2 separate regions of the Homo sapiens genome follow, and region 1 is linked to region 2. Evidence: fine-mapped expression QTL. A gene starts in region 2. The other region holds a variant in brackets. All regions are shown on one strand. Distances are between the middles of the regions. Region 1 overlaps DOCK5 (dedicator of cytokinesis 5). Region 2 holds the start of DOCK5 (dedicator of cytokinesis 5).

Region 1 (5,374 bases), 23 kb after region 2:
GGAAGAGAGCCCTCACCGGAAACTGACCATGATGGTAACTTGATCTTGGACTTCCAGCCCCCAGAGCTGTTAGAAAACACATTTCTGTTATTTAAGCCACATGGTGTGTGGTATTTTGTTATGGCAGCCTAAGCTGACTGAGACACAGGGAGTTGCGTGTTATTTGAAATACGAGTCCACTGTTGCCAGATCAAAGTTCAATCTCTGTAGTTTAATCCTAGATTTTTCCCTCCTCTTTTACAGGGATTTGAATCTAGTGAAAGTAATTCACATGCACATCAGATACATGCCTTTAGCAGCCTTCTGGCCTTGAAAATCCTGCTGTTGCTGATTCAGTTGTCAGGGCCCAAATCAGCTGGTGAACTCATGAGTTTGCAGGTCTAGAATTGTAGGTGTGGGAAGGGGAGAGAGACATGGGTTACTGAAGACTTGTGCAAATAAATGCTGTGTTCATCTTCACCGATTCACCAGGTATCTGAGTAGGAGGTATGCACTTAGCACTTGGAATACTCAGAGATAATGCCATTGCACACTTAATTGATACTTCTCCTAACACTTAAGAGAAGTGGACATAGATTCTGTTTGTGGGAAGTTTATAATGAATTAAAAGACCCCAAGTATAAAGCCATAAATAACTCCAGGGAAAGGAAGGCTGAACATGAAAAAAGTTGCAAAAAAAGTCCAGTTGGGGTTATTGGAGTTTAGAGAAGCAGAGATTATTCTAATTGAGGGAGTTGAGGAAGCTTCAGGGAAGTAGTTGAACTTTATAGAGATGGACATCAGGTTTGGGAAGGCTGGGGACCTGGCACAGCGTGAGCCCTGGCCCTAACGCAGTTATTTGTGGCAAGTGGATAATGAGGAAGTTGTCCATTCTTGCTGAAGCAAAGGGTGGGTAAAGTGGAAAAGAGGGAAATGATATAGATTTTGTCAGATTATGGGGAGACTTGTTTACCTTGATTTTTTTTCTTCCTCTTTAACCATTCATGCTGCAATAGTGTGCTGGTAAACTAGCTCTGTAGAGTGGGAGGAAAAAACTTGAGTTTGTAGCATTCACCAATATCTGTGGTGTAAATACTCCCACAGTGGCCAATTTCAGACCAGCAGTGGATTAAGAGATAGCTCACAGAATTCCTGAAAATTCCTGAAAATGTAACAGTTGGCCCTTCCAAACTAGTACAAGTTTGCTCCAGTATTCTGTGAAAAACCTGGGCTAGTTCCTACATGACAAATAGTTACAGTACCTGCCTGCCCACAGCCTGGATAGAAGACCCAGGGAAGGCCTAGGTAGCCTCGTTTTACACCATCTAAGATTCCTGTGGCCATCACTGATTGTCCCTGGATGGACACACTACCTAGAGGCCATTCCGTAGCCTGGACAATGACATATGGTTTGACGCAAAGAAGTAAGTACTCAATCAGGTTCCTTCTCTTGGGAATTTGAATGAGGAAATACCAATATGTTTTGCCACAGGGGCAAAAGCTAAAAGGATGTCGTTTGGGAGTTGAGTTGGTGGCAACCTGAAGCCATGTGGAAGCCAATGTTGTGAATGGAAACCACAAGGAAACTGAAAAAGCTGATTGATAGAGAGAGGGGAGCAGATGTGGAGAGACCCTACAGCCCTAGAGTGGCCCCTGTTCTTAGCAGCTTTCCAAGTCCAGGTCTAAAACATCCCTTTTCTGAGGCAATTTGAGTGAGTCTCTGTTCCTTGCAATACCGTGGCATCACTGAAGAAGTTTATGTGGCAACTCAGGGTACTTTGCAGAGCTTTCTATGAATGCAGACATACCTCCTTCTATATAGCACATCACTTTATTGATCGACCATAAGATTCATGGTCGATCAATAAAGCAATGGTTCATGAAGTTTGATGAAAGAAGTTTAATAAAAGAAGCCATTGCCATAGCATAGAAGTGCAAGGTGAGGCAGCAAGTGCTGATATAGAAGCTGTGGCAAGTTATCCAGAAGATCTAGTGAAGATATTGATGAAAGTGGCTACACTAACAACATATTTTAAGTGTAGATGAAATAGCCTTCTATTGTAAGAAGATGCTGTCTAGTACTTTCATAGCTAGAGAGGAGAAGTCAGTGACGGGCATCAAAGGATAGGCTGACCCTCTTGTTAGGGGCTAATGCAGCTGGTGACTTTAAATTGAAACCAGTGCTCTTTCACCATTCTGAAAAATCTGAGGGCCCTTAACAATTATGCTAAATCTACTCTGCCTGTGCTCTATAAATGGAACAGCAAAGTCTGGATGACAGTACATCTGTTGACAGCATGGTTTACTGACTATTTTAAGCCTACTGTTGAGACCTACAGCTGAGAAAAAGAAGATTCCTTGATTCAAAATATTACTGCCCATTGACAATGCACCAGGTCACCCAAGAGCTTAGATGGAGATGGACAAGGAGATTAATGTTTTCATGCCTGCTGACACAACATGAATACTGCAGCCCATGGATCAAGGGATAATTTTGACTTTCAAGTCTGATTATTTAAAAGAATACATTTCATGAAATGGTGGCTGCCATAAATAGTGATTACGCTGATGGTTCTAGGTGTAGTACATTAAAAACCTTCTGGAAAGGATTCCCCATTCTAAATGCCACTAAGAATATTGATGTTTCATGGGAGGAGGTCAAAATATCAATATTAGTAGGAGTGTGGAAGAAATTGATTCCAATTCTCATGGATGACTTTGAGGGGTTCAAAACTTCAGTGAAGGATGTCCCTGCAGATGTTGTGGAAATAGCAAGAGCACTAGAATTAGAAGTGGAGCCTGAAGATGTGAGAATTGCTGCAATCTCTTGATAAAACTTGAGCAGAGAAGAGTTACTTTTTATGAATGAGCAAAGAAAGTGGTTTCTTGAGATGGACTCTATCTTGGTGAAGATGCTGTGAACATTGTTGACAACCAAGGATTTAGAATAATCCATAAACTTGTTGACAAAGCAGTGGAAAGGTTTGAGAGGATTGACTCCAAATTTGAAAGAAGTTATACTGTGGGTGAAATACTATGAAATGCTATCAAATAGCATCACATGCTATAGAGAAATATTTCATGAAAGGAA[G/T]TATCAATTGATCTGGCAAACTTAATTGCTGTCTTATTTTAAGAAATTGCCACAGCTGCCCCAGTCTTCAGCAACTGCCACCCTGATCCATGAGCTGCTATCAATATCAAAGCAAGACCCTTCACCAGCCAAAAAATTAAGAGTCCTTGAAGGCTCAGATGATCATATGCATTTTTTTAGCAATAAAATATTTTCAAATTAAGGTCTGTACATTTTTTAGACATAATGCTATTACACACTTAATTGACTGTAGTGTAAACATAACTTTTATAGGCACAGGGGAACCGAAAAATTTGTGTGATTGGCTTTACTGCAATATTTGCTTTATTGCACAGTCTGGAACCAAATCCACAGTATCTCCTAGGTATGCCTATATAGCAAATTTCTTAAGAATAGAGGACAAATCACTTGCTTCTGATTGAGGTTAAAATATGCCCATGACCTTCATTTCTTTGCCTTCCCTCCCTCCCTGCACTCCTCCCAAATGACTTGTGAATATTATTTTTTCATTCTTTTTCATTCCAGCAGAGCTGGTTTGGAATTCATGATGTTGAAAGAATAGCCAGTAGGAACATGTGGTGGGGTGATGTTTTGTTGGCATTTACCATTACAGAAAATCACAAGAAAATTGGAGCCATTAGCAGCAGGGAAAGGAAAATGAGTTCTTTATCTGCTGAGGGCATCTGGTGAGGGAGGGTCTGTGAAGATGCCGCGGGTGCACTGCTCTAGTATGAAATGCCATTTGAAGGAGGCTCAGAGCACATTAGCGCCGTCATCCCTGTCTGATGTTCTCACCACACGCAAGTTCGTGAATAATTAAATTGTTAGGAAGGGGAAAGTCATGCATGGCGGGTCTTGCCCGAGGCTCAGGCAGACACACAATGAGGTCGCTACTCTGGGAGCCCAGTGGTCCAGGATGCCAGTCTGGCAGTGCCAGGGAAGGATGCTTCCTTTCAATAAGCGAACATTGTGAGGGAGCGGGGTGGAGGCAAGAGACCGCTTAGAAATCAGCACATGTGAATTCTGCTTCAAACTCTGCCACTAACCAGCTATTTGACCTTCCAGAAGTTGCTTCTTCATCTATAATGAAGGATGATGCCAAGAGGATTTTAACTTTTTGAGAAATAAAGCTCCTTTGAGACTGTAATGAAAGCTGTGGATTCTTTCCACAGAAAATGGTGCATATGTCTGTCGATGACATTTCACATACAACTTTAGGAAGTTTAGAAATCTTTGGGGACTCAAGGATCCCAGCTTAAGAAGAAGTCTTGCATGAGATGATGTCTGAACTTTTTTTGTATCTCTACAATTGCATTTTTCTGAGACTTTGGATCTTGGAAGGAACCTAGAATGTCAGCTGGGCTCTCACTTCTACTCTCAACAAGAGGCAAGCCTGCCCTGCCAGCATTTCGTGCAGAAGGCGCAAGCAACATGGGAGCCTCCTGTGTTTTCCTCAAAAGACACCATACTTCTTTTTCATTAGAGACAGGGTCTCAGCCTCGCTCTGTTGCCTAGAGTGCAGTGGCGCCATGATCCTCCCCCCTCAGTCTCTTGAGCTGCTGGGACTACAGGCACATGCCACCATCCCCGGCTAATTATATATATATATATATATATATATAAATGTGTGTGTGTGTGTGTGTGTGTGTGTGTGTGTATCTGTCTATTTATCTATCTATCTATCTATCTATCTATCTATCTATCTATCTATCTATCTATCTATCGAGTAGAGATGGGGCCTTGCTATTTTGTCCAGGCTAGTCTTGAACTCTTGGCCTCAAGCGATCCTCCTGCCTTGGGCTCCCAAAGTGCTGAGATTACAGGCATGAGACACTGCATCTGGCCCTCTATAACCTCTTGATGTGTGCATTCTAAGCGGGAAGAAACAGACAGCAAATGCACAGTATGTATAGCATGATGTCAGTGATCAGGGCTTTGAAAATATTGATGAAGCACAGTGATGCCATAGACAGTGATGGGGTGAGGTGCTGTTGTCGAGTTGGGATGGTCAGATAACGGCTCTGTGGAGGGGATATGTGGGAAAAGATGTGAATAAAAGAGGGATTGGGACCGGGCGCTGTGGCTCACACCTGTCATCCCAGCATTTTGGGAGGCCAAGGTGGATGGATCAGTTGAGGCCAAGAGTTCAAGACAAGCCTGCCCAACATGGAGAAACCCCATCTCTACTGAAAAATACAAAAATTAGCCAAGTGTGGTGACACATGCCTGTAATCCCAGCTACTTGGGAGGCTGAGGCATGAGAATTGCTTGAGCCTGGGAGGCAGAGGTTGCAGTGAGCTGAGG
Region 2 (5,374 bases):
TTGAAGCCTCACAGTAGTAGATCCCCCTGCCGTTCATGTGGCCCTCCTCTTGGTTCTTTTTCATGCTGTGATGCAATCATAGCTCACTGCTAGCCTCGACCTCCTGGGCTCAAGCAATCCTCCCACCTCAGTCTCCTGAGTAGATAGGGCCACAGGCACAGCCACCATGCCCAGGATATATATATAGTAGAGGAGGGTCTCACTATGTTGTCCAGGCTGATTTTGAACTCCTGACCTTAAGCAATCCTCCCACCTCAGCCTCCCAAAATGCTGGGATTACAGGTGTGAGCCACCACATCTGGCCAGGCTCTATTTTCACGTATGTCAAGAACCCAACATCTTTTTCACCTCCATCCTTATCCTCCTGGACCCAACTACCTTCATGTCTTGCCTGAATGACTGAAATAGCCCCCAACATCCATCCATGTGGGCCTCCCTTGCCCCTTTACAATGGATTCATACCACAGCAGGCAAGTTCAATATGTTCCAGGTTGGCTCAAAGCCCTCCAAACCTCGCTTGTAGTAGTAATATATAAAGTCCATATGCCTGCCAGGGTTCTGCTCTATCTGGCATTCCTCTGCCTCTTAGACCAAGTTTCCTCTCACCTGTTACTCAGCTCTCATTACCTAGGATCTCTGGGTGACCTGGGAACCTGCCAAACACGCTTGGTGTCCTTTGCCTTTGCTGTTCCTCTTTTCCAGAATACTTTCTCCCGGAATCTTCACTTCCTTCAGGTCTACACCTCAACCTCAGCTTAGCAGAGCTGCATTCCCAGACCACTCCATAAAAACAGCAGCACCCTACACGCCCTATCCTCCCTGCTTTGGATTTTTCTCTAATGTTTACTCTCGTTTGGTGTACATTTCTTTACTGTCTTACTCTCCCCGTCTAGACTAGAAGCTCTGTGAAGGGACACATTCTACTGTATTCACCGCTGCACCCTCATTCTTAGAGTGATGCCTGGCACTTAACGTGTAGGCATTTAATATGTGTGTGAAGAAGGAAGAAGAAATTACCTAACCTGGGAAATTAGAATCATGATATACTAATGGAGGAAGATAAATTATTTTAGGGAAGATGGTGGAATTCTTTCTGGATGTCAAGTCTAAAGTGACAGAGGAATTTCTTAAATTATTGTTAAACATTGTGAATAAATACCTATTGGTTGATGGAGAAAAAAAAAGCCAGCTCTAGTAGTTACCCACCGTGAATAGGACTTAAAAAAAATTTCAGACCTCGTTTGGTAAAAAACCACCAAAGTTAAAATGCACTAATTCTCCAATGAAACTTTACTATCTTGTTACCTTGTTTGCCTATCTATCTTTACTGTCTTTTTTTTTTTTTTTTTTTTTTAGACGGAGTTTTGCCCTGTTGCCCAGGCTGGAGTGCAGTGGCGCGATCTCGGCTCACTTATAGCCTCTGCCTCCCGGGTTCCAGCGATTCTCCTGCCTCAGCCTCCTGGGTAGCTGGGATTACATGAGCACACCAGCACGTCTGGCTAACTTTTGTATTTTAGTAGAGAAGGGGTTTCACCATGTTGGCCAGGCTGGTCTGGAACTCGTGACCTCAGGTGATCCACCCGCCTCGGCCTCCCAAAGTGCTGAGATTACAGGCATGAGCCACCACGCCTGGCCAACTACCTGTCTTTACTATCTTTACTACATGTTTGTCTTCCTTTCTTTTATATTCCTAAAACGCATGAAAACCTTCACAGGCTGCAAGGAGGATATAATTTCTCTCTAGAGGAATCTTCTTCGAAGGTGAACGTAATTAAGCTGGTCATTTACTCTACTTGCAATGTTACTTCTCGGTACAAGGTAGGGAGAAACCCCTGGATCTTCATTCTCCAAGTCTCTCCAGGAAGAAATGAATTCCAAGAGGGGAGCTCCAGAGAGGGCGCCACCTGGAGCCCAAGGCGGTTCAAATGCGCAGCCCCTTTGGGATCTTCGTCAAGAAAAGGCAGTCGTTGACGGAGAAAAGACGGGGATGCGCCTTGGCCCTTTCTCCACGGGAATGCTCTCTGGGCTGCTGGCTGGTTGGGAAAGGGAGGTCTGGGCATGAGGGTCTAAGTTTCTTCAGCTTAAGGTTGGGGGGTCCCCGGAGTTTGGGGATACAGGACTTCCAAATTAGGGCTTTCTAAACAATTTCCCTGCAGAGGATCCCCTAGCAAACGGTCTGATACTTCTGAGGAGCCCACCTCCCTTGCACCAGCTCTCCGGTGATAAAAGTTCTGCTTTCCAGGCTCTAAGCGGTGGCCCCGGGAGATTCAGTCTGCCCTGAGTCCGGCTTCTCCCGCTCGCGGCGCGGGTTCAAGCTCCAGGGGGTGAAGGCAGAAGTCAACTGCTCATTCATTCAACAAATATTTATTGCGCGCCCGCTTAGTGCCAGGCACCGGAGGTGCCCCGAGCAAGAAGCCGCTCTCGCTGATCCGTTTCCGCTCCCCAAGTGTCCGGCGCGCGCCGTGGGAGCGCAGCCCGCATCCCTCGCCCACCGGCCGCCCGGCCTGGGCGTGCCCGGCTCCTCCAGCGCAGCCCTCTGTCGGGAGCCGGACCCCCGGGACCCAGCCTCCGGGGTATCAGCCGGGTGGGGAGGGCGGGAGAAAGGCAAAGTGCCGCCAGCGTCAAAGTCCCGCCGGCCCAGGAAGCCGCTCCAGGGAAGCGCGCGAGGCGGAGCCGCAGTCGGCCCCCGCCCGGCAGAGCGCAGAGAGCGGCGCGGGCGGGAGAGGCCGGGCGCCCGCGGCTCGGAGGCGGCCCCGGCGGGCGGAGGGTGCGGCCGGCGGGAGGGACTGGGGCGGCGCCAGGAGGGGCGCGCACTGCTGCGCTGCAGCCCGGCCCAGCAGGTGACCGCGGGCGGCGCGGGCACGGGCACGGGCGCGGGCGGCGCGGCGAGGAGGCGGCCCGCGGAGTCCAGCGAAGTTTGGCGGAACATGGCGGAAGCGTCTGGGGCACGCAGGAGCGCGGGGCGGCGGCGGCCGGAGCCCGAGGAGCTGTAGCAGCCTTAGTCGCCGCCGCCGCGGGGCGAGGTCGCCGCCATGGCCCGCTGGATCCCGACCAAGAGGCAGAAGTACGGGGTTGGTGAGTGCGCGCCCCACCTTGTCCCGGCCCGACCCACGCGGCCAAGTTCGCGGACAGCGGCCCTGCCAGGTTTGCGCAGAGCCCGGCGGAGGACCCTGGCCGGGGGCTCGGCCCGGCTGCGCAGCTCTGGGAGCCGGGGACGGTAGGAGTCCTCTCCAGGGAGCGCCGATGGGGAAGTCGCCCAGGGTTTGGGGACTCCGAGTGCTTCCAAGTGCAGCTGAGCTTCGGGACCGTAATCCCGCTCTTGCATCCCAATCTCCGGCACTTCACACCAGGGAAATGTCAACGCGAGGGGGGCGCGCCTGCTGCTCTTTTGGGGCCGCAGCTCTGTGGCTCGCCCCGGTGCGCCCAGCGTGGGTTTCACCTGGGAGTAGGTGACCAGCCCGGGTCGGCACATGGACTGGTGCTCATTGTCCCAGTGCTTTCTGCCCCCCGCTTTCGTAGGTTCTTCTCAGACGCCCCTTAAGTGAGGAGTTGAGGGTGGAAAGCCGCCCTGCCCCCTTTCCTCCAGAGACTGGGATCTTGATGACAGTTGTGAGCTGGATGGAAACTAGAGTCGTGGCGTGGAAGTGATGGAAGGGACAGGAAGTTGTGGCACGGGAAGGGGGTGGCTGGCCCCTGGGGCTGTTTGTGCGCACTCATCCCCTAACGGAGCCTGTCTGGAGAGGGTGTAAGGCTGCCTTCCGGATCCTGAGTTTCATCCTGGAGACGAGAAGAGGACATTTTATTAAGGAAACTGTGCCAGACCCCGTGCTGGGCACTTGGCATTCAGAACAGCGGTGCTGGAGAGCCCCGGGTTGTGCGCAGGGGTTGCTGGTGGTGGTGCTTTGGCTCCGAAACAATAGATGTGCGGGGATTTTGACCCAGGTGGAAAGTCAGGCTCCTTTGGCTTTTTATCAAGGATTGAAGTTATTGAGGGCCTGTGGGAAGACTTCTGCCCTGAACGGGGTGATTACAATGGCAGTTAGACCTGGGGTGATTCCCTACAATAAACACGGCTGAGTGTGTTGCGAATTTTATCACTTCCTCTCAGATCCATTCATTTGGCCTGTTTGTAATTTAGTCTTTGACTTTACTCCCTTACTGAGGTCCTGTTTTTCCTCACCTCACTGGTTAATGAAGTGCAGTCTCAATTAAGAGCTACTCAACGTGTCTAGGGGCTTTTCAACTCTGTAGCCAGGAGTCAGGGTTTTTTGTTGTTGTTTGTTTTGTTTTTTAACAGTCTCATATTTACTATATTATTCTTAGGTTGTGATCCTTTATATATTTATTATTTTTTGTTTTCCCTCAATTCAAAAGACATTTTCTTTTTTGCTCTTAAGTTGCTTTTAGAATCTTAGTCTCTCCCTTAGCTGCATCTCAGAAATGGGTAGAGATGTTGCTTCTGCCTCAGGGCTCTTTTTTTTTTTTTTTTTGGTTTGTTTGTTTTTGAGACGGACTGACGAGGGAGTCTCACTCTGTCGCCCAGGCCGGAGTGCAGTGGCGCAATCTCGGCTCACTGCAAGCTCCACCTCTAGGTTCCAGCAATTCTCCTGTCTCAGCCCCCCTCCCCGAGTAGCTGGGATTACGGGCTTGCATCACTACACCTGACTAATTTTTGTATTTTTAGTAGAAACCAGGTTTCGCCATCTGGGCCAGGCTGGTCTCAAACTCCTGACCTCAGGTGATCCGCCTGCCTCGGCCTCCCAAAGTGTTGGGATTACAGTCATGAGCCACCTCACCTGGCCCCTAGATGAAAGCATATTTACAATGCCCAATCACTACAGAAATGTTATCAACTCTAATTTTATCAGGATTAAAAGCTCTTTTCAAAACTATTCAGTTGAGGGTAATTAATGCAAACATGTTTCAAAAATGTGGTTTTTATTGCCATAGTCCTAGGAGCAAGTATAATTGTTTTTAATATTTTGTTTTTATGTTCTGGAGTCAGTTTACTGTGTCACTTATCAGTCAAGAAAAATATTTGGGCCAGGTGCGATGGCTCACGTCTGTAATCCCAACAATTTGGGTGGCAGAGGCAGGAGGATTGCTTGAGCCCAGGAGTTCAAAACTAGCATAGCAACATGGCAAACGGGTCTTTACAATAAATACGAAAAAAATTTAGCCGGGCATGGTCGCCTGTGCCTGTGGTTCTAGCTACTGAGGAGGCTGAGGTGGGAGGATAGCTTGAGCCTGGGAGGTTGAGGGTGCACCGAGCCCCCATCACGACACTGCACTCCAGCCTGGGTGATACTGTGAGACCCGATCTCAAAAAAAAAACTATATATACATATATATACGTATATATATATATACACAC

The links. PIP is the estimated chance that this variant, and not a neighbour inherited with it, causes the effect. A credible set is the group of variants that fine-mapping cannot tell apart.
Region 1: its variant is the best candidate, but not a certain one, in a credible set for the expression of DOCK5 in whole blood (TOPMed, PIP 0.74).

The regions. Positions count from the first base shown.
Region 1 is chr8:25,205,343-25,210,716 of GRCh38, forward strand. The region is part of intron 1 of DOCK5 (dedicator of cytokinesis 5); the gene reads left to right. Among named protein-coding and RNA genes, the nearest start is that of DOCK5, 23 kb to the left of the region's middle. The variant G/T (reference allele first, on the strand shown) is at 3,071.
Region 2 is chr8:25,181,877-25,187,250 of GRCh38, forward strand. It overlaps DOCK5 (dedicator of cytokinesis 5), which reads left to right and starts at 2,813. Exons shown (of 52, transcript NM_024940.8): 1 at 2,813-3,075. The coding sequence starts at 3,033. It overlaps LOC124901912 (a long non-coding RNA gene), which reads right to left and starts at 2,501. Exons shown (of 2, transcript XR_007060861.1): 1 at 1-2,501. RefSeq lists silencers at 2,631-2,710, 2,721-2,890, 3,061-3,110.